Regions from separate parts of the Homo sapiens genome. Here all the other regions are linked to region 3. The links come from fine-mapping of genetic effects on plasma protein levels. A gene starts in region 3. Each other region holds a variant in brackets. All regions are shown on one strand. Distances are between the middles of the regions.

Region 1 (2,610 bases), 11 kb after region 3:
TACATTTGTTGACTCCATTACCTCTGATCAGCCCCTTTCAATCTGGTTTCCACTTGTACTTCTTTGTTAAACTTACTCTCTTTCAGATCTTAAGGTCACTGATGATCTTCTTGTTACCAAATCACAAAGCTTCTTAATTCTTAGGTTAAGACTGTTCTGCATATGATTTAATCTTGATTCTTCCTGTCTTGAAACCTCCTCTTTACTTGGTATAATAGTCCATTTTCACACTGCTGATAAAGACATACCTGAAACTGGGCAATTTACAAAAGAAAGAGGTTTAATGGACTTACAGTTCCACATGGCTGGGAAGGTCTTATAATAATGGTAGAAGGTGAAAGGCACATCTCACATGGCTGCAGACAAGAGAAGAGAGCTTGTGCAGGGAAACTCCCATTTTTAAAACCATCAGATCTCATGAGATTTATTCACTATCACAAGAACAGCATGGGAAAGACCTGCCCCCATGGTTCAAATACCTCCCACAACACGTGGGAATTTAAGATGAGATTTGGATGTGGACACAGCCAAACCATATCATTCTGCCCCTGGACCCTCCCAAATCTCATGTCCTCACATTTCAAGACCAATCATCCCTTCCCAACAGTTCCCCAAAGTCTTGATTCATTTCAGCATTAACTCAAAAGTCCACAGTTTAAAGTCACATCAGAGACAAGGCAAGTCTCTTCTGCCTATGAGCCTGTAAAATCAAAAGCAAGTTAGTTACTTCCTAGATACAATGGGGGTACAGGCATTGTGAAATACAGTCATTCCAAATGGGAGAAATTGGTCAAAACAAAGGGGCTACAGGCCCCATGCAAGTCCAAAATCCAGCAGGGCAGTCAAATCTTAAAGCTCCAAAATGACCTCCTTTGATTCCATGTCTCACATCCAGGTCATGCTGATGCAAGAGGAGGGTCCCCATGGTCTTGGGTAGCTCTGCCCCTGTGGCTTTGCAGGGTACAGCCACCCTCCTGGCTGCTTTCATGAGCTGGCATTGAGTGTCTGTGACCTTTACAGGGGCAGAGTGCAAGTTGTCAATGGATCTACCATTCTGGGGTCTGGAGTATGGTGGCCCTCTTCTCACAGCTCCACTAGGCAGTGCCTCAGTAGGGACTCTGTGTGGGGGCTCCAACCCCACATTTCCATTCCATACTGCCCTAGCAGAGGTTCTCCATGAGAGTCCTGCCCCTGCAGCAAACTTCTGCCTGGACATCCAGGTATTACTGTACATCCTCTGAAATCTAGGCAGAGGTTCCCAAACCCCCATTCTTGACTTCCATGCACTGGCAGGCTCAACACCACATGGAAGCTGCCACAGCTTGAGGCTTGCACCCTCTGAAGCCATGGCCTGAGCTGTATGTTGGCCCCTTTCAGCCATGGCTGGAGCAGCTGGCACACAGGGAACCAAGTCCCTAGGCTGCACACAGCATATGGACTCCTGACCTGGCCCACAAAACCATTTTTTTCTCCTAACCCTCCAGGCCTGTGATGGGAGGGGCTGCTGTGAAGGCCTCTGACATGCCCTGGAGACATTTTCCACCTT[G/A]TCTTGGGGATTAACATTCAGCTCCTTGTTACCTAGGCAAATTTCTGCAGCTGGCTTGAATTTCTCCTCAGAAAGTGGGATTTTTTTTTTCTATGACACTGTCAGGCTGCAAATTTTATCAACTTTTGTGCTCTGCTTCACTTATAAAACTGAATGCCTTTAACAGCACCCAAGTCGCATCTTGAATACTTTGCTGCTTAGAAATTTCTTCTACCAGATACCCTAAATCATCTCTCTCAAGTTCAAAGTTCCACACATCTCTAGGGCAGGAGCAAAATGCTGGCAGTATCTTTGTTAAAACATAACAAGAGTCACCTTTGCTCCAGTTCCCAACAAGATCCTCATCCCCATCTGAGACCACCTAAGCCTGGATTTCATTGTCCGTATCATTATCAGCATTTTGGCCAAAGCCATTCAACAAGTCTCTAGGATGTTCCTAACTTTCCCACATTTTCCTTTCTTCTTCTGAGCCCTCCAAACTGTTCCAACCTCTACCTGCTACCCTCCAAAGTCAGTTCAACATTTTTGGGTATCTTTTCAGCAGTGCCCCACTCTTCTGGTACCAATTTGCTGTATTAGTCTGTTTTCACACTTCTGATAAAGACATACTTGAGACTGGGCAATTTACAAAAGAAAGAGTTTTAATGGACTTAGAGTTCTATGTGACTGGGAAGGCCTCACAATAATGGTGGAAGGTGAAAGGCACATCTTACATGGCAGCAGACAAGAGAAGAGAGCTTGTGCAGGAAACTCCTGTTTTTAAAACCGTCAGATCTTGTGAGACTTAATCACTATCATGAGAACAGCATGGGAAAGACCTGCCCCCATGATTCAAGTGCCTCCTACTAGGTCCCTCCCACAACACATGGGAATTCAAGATGAGATTTGGGTGGGGACACAGCCAAACCATATCACTTGGCTTTGTGGCATTGCATTTATATCCTACTTTTCTTCACTGTTTTTGTAAAGTGCAATGCCTCCAAGAGATCTCTAATTATAAATGTTTTCAAGGCTCTAGTTTTGGCCTTTTCTCTAACATCAGAGACTGCAATTTGGCAGCTCAT
Region 2 (2,610 bases), 46 kb after region 3:
AAAATTATATATCACACTATATTTTCACAAGAAATAAATATTTCTAAGCATCTCTTATCACAGGGCATTATCATTTTTCATTTTTATGGGATGGCTCAACTGGTGGAATAATAGTTTTTTTTTTTTTAAAGATCTGTGGGTTTCACTGACTTTGTGATTCTTTTTAAAAAAAAGAACTTAAAAAAATTTCTAGCTAGTTCAACCCAAATGCCATATTAGTTACTTTAAAAGAAAGCACTATATATTAATACATACCACATTTATGTTTGTCTGAAACAAAAACCTTAGAGATAGACTTTTTTGTGCTCACCAAAGCTGAGGAGGAGACAGCCACATCACTAATTGTTCCATTTTCTTTCCTGTGGCACATACATTGTATGATAAAGGCAATAGTCTCCACCACCTAAAGATTAGATGTAGAACATTGCCTTTGTTGTTTAATTTACAATTCTCTTTGTTTCTAGATATTAAAACTTCTCCATTAATATAAAAAATACTTTATTATATATCATATTTCTAATAATACATAATACAGGAGAAAATTGGTTAATCTCTAGATTGGGTTCAATATATTATTTATATTTTGAGAATTTTAATTTTTTATGAAGGTCTAATATTTTTGGAATAAGATCACCAACAAAGTTATGTTCTAGTGTAACTTCATATGTTGTGGATAAATGTAACACATGAAGTTCTTTATCAAGCTTTTCTTTTATCATTCTCTTTTCATGTCCAGTTAACACTTCATGGCCTGTAAAGATGGCTACAAATGCTGTGCTTTGTTGCCCTCCTATCGCATTAAGAAATTTGATCATAATAACATGGGAAATAATCCTGAGAGGCCAGCCTTCCTGCACAAAAGCCTACAAGAAAGAAACAAATGAGACCAAGGAAACCAACTGTACTGATGAGAGAATAACCTGGGTCTCCAGACCTGATCAGAATTCGGACCTTCAGATTCGTACCGTGGCCATCACTCATGACGGGTATTACAGATGCATAATGGTAACACCTGATGGGAATTTCCATCGTGGATATCACCTCCAAGTGTTAGGTAAGGAGCATCATATATTGAGGTATTTCACATCACCAGATTTGTGACGGAAACAAATGTCTCTCTGAATTCCATATGCTTTATGTGAAAACCGAAGCATTTTTTTCCCTCTTTCCTCTCTGCAGTTACACCTGAAGTGACCCTGTTTCAAAACAGGAATAGAACTGCAGTATGCAAGGCAGTTGCAGGGAAGCCAGCTGCGCATATCTCCTGGATCCCAGAGGGCGATTGTGCCACTAAGCAAGAATACTGG[A/G]GCAATGGCACAGTGACTGTTAAGAGTACATGCCACTGGGAGGTCCACAATGTGTCTACCGTGACCTGCCACGTCTCCCATTTGACTGGCAACAAGAGTCTGTACATAGAGCTACTTCCTGGTCAGTAATTCTTTTAGTTTTATTTTTTATTTTTTTCCATTCTTTTAAAAGAGTTAAGAAAAAAAAAGATGTGCAAATATATTTTGTTCGAGGATGCTCTCCCCACTCTTCATTTTTATCTCTTCCCTGACCAAAATAAAGAGATGAGTTGAGGAGAATAGTACAGACATTTGTTGTAAAAAGCCCTTTTTTAGAATGCAGTTTAATTCTACTATTAATGTTCACTTCTATGCTAGTAGTTAATTAGCATGAGTAGTATACTTTTAAAAATAATACTTATGGCTTATTGAAAGATAAAGTATACTTTGAAGCATGTAATTATGGTTCTATTAGAAGGATACATTTACTCAAAGTTGCTTTTATGAATTTTTAGTTTGTTGTAATTTTGTTTTCTGGACTTTTCATCATTGAATTTCTTAAATGTCTTATAATAACATCTATGATTCATTTAATCACTGTTTAGTTTATTTACTCTCTGCTCTCATCCTACTCTCATTTCTTGTTATTTAAAAACTATTAAATATCAACAAACATATTTAAAGTGCAATTGTTCTGTAAGGCTTCCTGAAAAACATTAGCTCTACCCCTGTCTTTCCAACCCAATTGCCATCTCCATTAAACTCCCCACAGGTAGGTACTTTCAAATTTTCCAGTGTTTCTTCTGGTAATTAGTGCCATTTTTATACAACATGCTCATACTGCTATTTCTTACTGTATCAAATTTAGACATTATGTAATCACAACTTCTTATGGTAGATGAGGATTTCACATTACCTTCTTCCTTTCCTTCAAACTTTAGTTGAGGTAATGCAATTTTTCATTAAATAGCCTATGTTCCCATCAATTTGAATATTTAAGTACTGTTAAGTGCTGAATCAAGAAATACACTCATGCTTTCTCTTTCAAATGACTTTTTTTCCTTGGACTTCATAAGTGCTTTACCTTTTTTGTTTCCTTAAGAATGTATGTACCTATCGTGAACTATCACTAAGCCTATTGACAAAACTAGAGAACCCCTTAGTAATATTTTCTACATGGTCAGATTTATTAGGTAATCTGTTAGTTCTATTTTTTCTCAAAGTCATTCCTTCTTGAGTTTTGGTATGTGTTTGGTCTAATCTCTCCTGATTGGCCTCTAGATCTGCTGTACAGCTATTGTCCTGGACACTCTCATTGCCTCAG
Region 3 (2,610 bases):
AGAGATGGAGTTTGGAGTTTTGTCATGTTGCCCAGGCTGGTCTCGAACTCCTGAGCTCAGGCAATCTGCCCGCCTCGGCCTCCCAGTGTCCTAAGATTACAGACATGAGCCACTACTCCCGGCCAACTTTCACTTCTATGTAGTGGAAAACCAGAATATTATCTGTATTTTAAATGATGTATTCTCACTAATTTTCCGACACCTGGTGAAACATTAGACAGAAGAGAAGACATTTTTGTTTTGGTCTTCCCATTGTCACAGCTCATACCCTTAAGTGTTCCATGCCCTCAAGGATCTGGTTTCACTGTCTTCATCAAATTAATTAACTGGAAAAAAAAGCTTGAGAAGGGGAAGGGGGGAAATATTTATAATGTTTGGCAAGAAGGAAGATGAAACTGCTAACTGAGAAAAAAAATGCATGCTGTTTAATCTTTTTCCTGTTTGCAATGTTTTCTTCCCCTTCCTGTACAGTTTTGCCTTGGGGCAGAAAATTCTCAGCACATAGAAGATTTTTCCCTCTCTCAGACATAACTTAAAAGCATAGTAACATAGTAACTAGCAACAGTAAGGAAGAGGTTTTTTTGTTGTTGTTGTTGTTTTTTTTTTTTGGTTAGGGGGAGTCTGAATTCCAGATGTGTGGCAACTAAGAGATGGGTGATTATTTGTAATTTGGTTAAAATGATCAGTCTAATTTTCCAAAGGTGAAACTGAATGGCAATAAGTACTGAGTTCTGATAAACAGAATGCCCTCACCCCCAACAAGGTAGATACCTATGTCCGAATTACCGAAACCTGTGAATGTTACCTTGTGTGGCAAAAAGGACTTTGCAGATGTGATTAAATTAAGATCTTGAAATTAGATCATGTTGGATTATTTGGGTGGACCAAAAATAATCACAAGGTCTTTATAAAAGGGAGGCATAAGGGTCACAGTCAGAGAAGATGTGACAGTGGACCAGAGGTCCGAATGATGTAGCTGCAAGCCAAGAAATGCAGGCATTCTCAAATCGCTGGAAAAGGCAGGGAGCAAATTCTGCCCGAGCCTCCAGATGGAGTGCAGCCCTTCCAACACCTTGATTTTAGTCCCCTAAGATCCATTTCAGACTTCTGATCACCAGAACTGTAAGATAATAAATGTTGTGTTGTGTTAAGCCACTGAGTTTGTGGTAATTTCTTACAGTAGCAATAGGAAACTAATACACATATGATGTTTACAGGGTTGTGTGTTGACTCCCATTATAGACAGGAATTTCACACAATAATTTTCAAGAAAACATATTGTATTCCAGACTCAAATACTAAGGCCGTAAAGCTCTTCAACCTGGAGAAAGCCTCTAAAAGTCATCATAATTGGGAAATTTACAAGGATGGGCCAAAGTAGATCAATATTCTGTTTTACTTTTTGGTGCAAGTTTAGACAAATCTGTTTATCTTGGACACGTTCAATGCCTTACTGTAAAGTTTGTCTGTGTACAGCAGAAGTGAGAGGAGAACCAATGAGCTGAGAGATAATTCAATCAATCTGCTTCCTCCGTCTTTGCTTCAGGGCTTCATACAGGAAATCTATTGCTGTGTCAAGTTCCAGAGAAAAGCTTCTGTTCGTCCAAGTTACTAACCAGGCTAAACCACATAGACGTGAAGGAAGGGGCTAGAAGGAAGGGAGTGCCCCACTGTTGATGGGGTAAGAGGATCCTGTACTGAGAAGTTGACCAGAGAGGGTCTCACCATGCGCACAGTTCCTTCTGTACCTGTGTGGAGGAAAAGTACTGAGTGAAGGGCAGAAAAAGAGAAAACAGAAATGCTCTGCCCTTGGAGAACTGCTAACCTAGGGCTACTGTTGATTTTGACTATCTTCTTAGTGGCCGGTAAGTTTGAATTCTCTTTGGGAGAACAGTGAGAAACCTGGTCTCAGCTCTTCCTGAGTTTATTTTTTGTCTTTCTTCTGGGGCAATACAAATCAATTGCAATAATAAATATAGGGGGTTGCTAAATATGGGTTACTCCCATATCTAGTTTACTTTATTATCCTTTTTTCCGGTGTCTTGCTTGTTGTACTTTGTATCCTACTACAATATACAGATCTCTATAATTTGTCTTACTGTCCATTTCCTTATTTCCTCCTGTTTTTTGAACAAGGCAGGATAAATCAAATACATACTAGCAGCAATCAAAGTCAGTTAGGTTCTCTTTATCTTATTCTCTTCCCCAACCCCCTTTTTTGAGACAGGGTCTTGCTCTGTTGCCCAGGCTGGAGTGCAGTGGTGCAATCGTAGCTCACTGCAGCCTGTAACTCCAGGTCTCAAGCAGTCCTCCCACTCAGCCTCCTGAGTGTCTAGGACTACAGATATGCGCCACTATGCTTGGCTAATTTTTAAAATTTTTGGTAGAGATAGAGTCTTGCTATATTGTCCATGCTGGTCTTGAGCTCCTGTCTTCAAGCAATTCTCCCACCTCAGACTCCCAAAGCATTGGGATTACAGGCATGAGCCACTGCACCCAGCCTCTTCTCTCTTAATTTTTTTTTTTAAGATAAGAACGCTAACTCATTTAGGTCCACATTGCCAGTGGCATAGATTAGGACAGTTTATTGCTTTCTGTCACTTTCGATGA
Region 4 (2,610 bases), 120 kb after region 3:
TTGTTGATTGAAATACCTTATAGATGCTGGATATTAGACCTTTGTCGAATGCATAGTTTGAAAATATTTTCTTCCATTCTGTGGGTCATCTGTTTACTCTGTTGATAGTTTCTTTTGCTGTGCAGAAGCTCTTAAGTTTAAATAGATCCCATCTGTCAATTTTTGGTTTTGTTGCAATTGCTGTTGGTGTGTTTGTCATGAAATCATTGCCAGTTCCTATGTCCAGAATGGTATTACCTAGGTTGTCTTCCAAGGTTTTTTATGGTTTCGGTTTTTACATTTAAGTCTTTATTCCATCTTGAGTTGATTTTTGTATATGGTGTAAGGAAGAGGTCCACTTTCAATCTTTTGCTTATGGCTAGTCAGTTATCTCAGCACCATTTATTGAGTAGAGTCCTTTCCCCATTGCTTGTTTTTGGCAGCTTTGTCAAAGATCAGATGGTTATAGATGAGCGGTCTTATTTCTGGGTTCTCTATTTTGTTCCATTGGTCTATGTGTCTGTTTTTATACCAGTACCATGCTGCTTTCATTACTGTAGTCTTGTGGTATAGTTTGAAGTCAGGTAGCATGATGTCTACTGTATTGTTCTTTTTTCTTAGGATTGCCTTGTGTATTTGGGTTCTGTTTTGGTTCCATATGAATTTCAAAATAGTTTTTTCTAGTTCAGTGAAGAATGTTATTGGTAATTTTATAGAAAGATCATTTAATCTATAAATTGCTTTGGGCAGTATAGTCATTATAATAATACTGATTATTATCCATGCTCTTATCCATGAGCATGGAATGTTTTTCCATTTGTTTGTGTCATCTCCATTTTCTTTGACTGGTATTTTGGAACTCTCATTGCAGAGATCTTTCACCTCCCTGGGTAGCTGCATTCCTAGGTATTTTATTCTTTTGTGGCAATTGTGAATGGGATCACATTTCTGATATGGCTCTTGGATTGGCTGTTGTTACTATATAGAAATACTAGTAATTTTCATATCCTGAAACTTTGCTGTTTATCAGTTGTTTGTCAGCTTAAGGGTCTTTTGGGCTGAGACTGGGGGGTTTTCTAAATATAGAATAATGTCATCTACAAATAGGGATAGATTAACTTCCTCTCTTCCTATTTAGATGTCTTTTTTTTTTTTTGAGATGGAGTCTCGCTCTGTTGCCCAGCCTGGAGTGCAGTGGCATGATCTCGGCTCACTGCAAGCTCTGCCTCCCGGGTTCACGCCATTCTCCTGCCTCAGCCTCCCAAGTAGCTGGGACTGCAGGCGCCTGCCACCGTGCCCAGCTAATTTTTTTTTTTGTATTTTTAGTAGAGACGGGGTTTCACCATGTTAGCCAGGATGGTCTCGATCTCCTGACCTCGTGATCTGCCCGCCTCGGCCTCCCAAAGTGCC[G/A]GGATTACAGGTGTGAGCCACTGCGCCCAGCCTATTTCTTTCTCTTGCCTGATTGCTTTGGCCAGGACTTCCAGTGTTATGTTGAATAGGAGTGGTAAGAGAGGGCATCCTTATTTTGTGCCGGTTTTCAAGGGAAATGCTACCAGCTTTTGCCCAGTTGGTATGATGTTGGCTGCGGGTTAGTCATAGATGACTCTTATTATTTTGAGTATGTTCCTTCAATACCTAATTTCTTCAGAGTTTTTAACATAAAGCAATGTTAAATTTTATCAAAAGCCTTTTCTGTATCTATTGAGATGATCATGTGGCTTTTGTAATTAGTTCTGCTTATGTAATGAATCGTGTTTATTGTTTACTGTATGTTGAACACACCTTGCATCCCAGGGATAAAGCCTACTTGATCATGGTGGATTAGCTTTTTATTGTGCTGCTGTATTTGGTATGCTAGTATTTTGTTGGAGATTTTTGCATTTATGTTCATCAAGGATATTGGCCTGAAGTTTTCTTTTTCTGTTTTTCCATTCTGTCTGCCAGATTTTGGCATCAGGATGATGCTGGCCTCATAGAATAAGCTAGAGAGGAGTCCCTCCTCCTCAATGTTTTAGAATAATTTCAGTAGGAATGGTACCAGCTCTGTTTTGTTACATGGGGTAGAATTTGGCTTTGAATTCATCCAGTCCAGGGCTTTTCCTGTTTTGTAGGCTACTTATTACTGATTTAATTTCAAAGCTTGTCATTGGTCCGTTTGGGAATTCCTTTTCTTCCTGGTTCAGTCTTGGGTGGGTGTATGTGTCCAGGAATTTATCCATTTCTTCTAGATTTTCTAGTTTGTGTGCGTAGAGGTGTGCATAGTCATCTCTGATGGTTATTTGTATTTCTATGGGGTCAGTGGTAATATTCCTTTTGTCCTTTTTGATTGCAATTTTTTGTGTCTCCAAGGCTATTTTCAGTTCAGCTCTGGTTTTGGTTATTTCTTGTCTTATGCTAGCTTTGGGGTTGGTTTGCTCCTGCTTCTCTAGTTCTTTTAGTTGTAATGCTCATTTTTAAAATTGAGATCTTTCTAACTTTGTGATGTGGGCATTTAGTGCTATAAATTTCCCTCTTAACTCTGCCTTAGCTGTGTCCCAGAGATTCTAGTATGTTGTAGTTTTGTTCTCATTAGTTTCAAAGAACATCCTGATTTCCACTGTAATTTCATTATTTACCCTAATGTCATTCAGG

Alleles and levels. Alleles are on the strand shown, and positions count from the first base shown. The strength of an association depends on the size of the effect and on how common the allele is.
With allele G in place of A in region 1, the plasma level of the protein whose gene starts at base 1,553 in region 3 is lower (weak association).
In carriers of allele G in region 2, the plasma level of the protein whose gene starts at base 1,553 in region 3 tends to be lower than with A alone (strong association).
In carriers of allele G in region 4, the plasma level of the protein whose gene starts at base 1,553 in region 3 tends to be higher than with A alone (weak association).

The links. PIP is the posterior inclusion probability: the model's chance that the variant is causal. Protein levels are from antibody-based Olink assays in UK Biobank. Linkage for the fine-mapping came from a reference panel and not from the study's own genotypes, which makes the PIPs less certain.
Region 1: its variant is fine-mapped to the plasma level of the CD200R1 protein (UK Biobank, PIP 0.99).
Region 2: its variant is fine-mapped to the plasma level of the CD200R1 protein (UK Biobank, PIP above 0.99). The variant lies in the coding sequence of CD200R1. If it changes the protein, the assay may bind it differently, which can mimic a change of level.
Region 4: its variant is fine-mapped to the plasma level of the CD200R1 protein (UK Biobank, PIP above 0.99).

Annotation. Positions count from the first base shown.
Region 1 is chr3:112,962,735-112,965,344 of GRCh38, reverse strand. All of the region lies in intron 1 of CD200R1 (CD200 receptor 1), which reads left to right. Among named protein-coding and RNA genes, the nearest start is that of CD200R1, 11 kb to the left of the region's middle. The variant G/A (reference allele first, on the strand shown) is at 1,547.
Region 2 is chr3:112,927,634-112,930,243 of GRCh38, reverse strand. It overlaps CD200R1 (CD200 receptor 1), which reads left to right. Exons shown (of 8, transcript NM_138806.4): 4 at 737-1,054; 5 at 1,180-1,428. Among named protein-coding and RNA genes, the nearest start is that of CD200R1, 46 kb to the left of the region's middle. The variant A/G (reference allele first, on the strand shown) is at 1,308.
Region 3 is chr3:112,974,046-112,976,655 of GRCh38, reverse strand. CD200R1 (CD200 receptor 1) reads left to right here and starts at 1,553. Exons shown (of 8, transcript NM_138806.4): 1 at 1,553-1,865. The coding sequence starts at 1,799.
Region 4 is chr3:112,852,179-112,854,788 of GRCh38, reverse strand. No RefSeq gene overlaps it. Among named protein-coding and RNA genes, the nearest start is that of CD200R1L, 6.6 kb to the right of the region's middle. The variant G/A (reference allele first, on the strand shown) is at 1,390.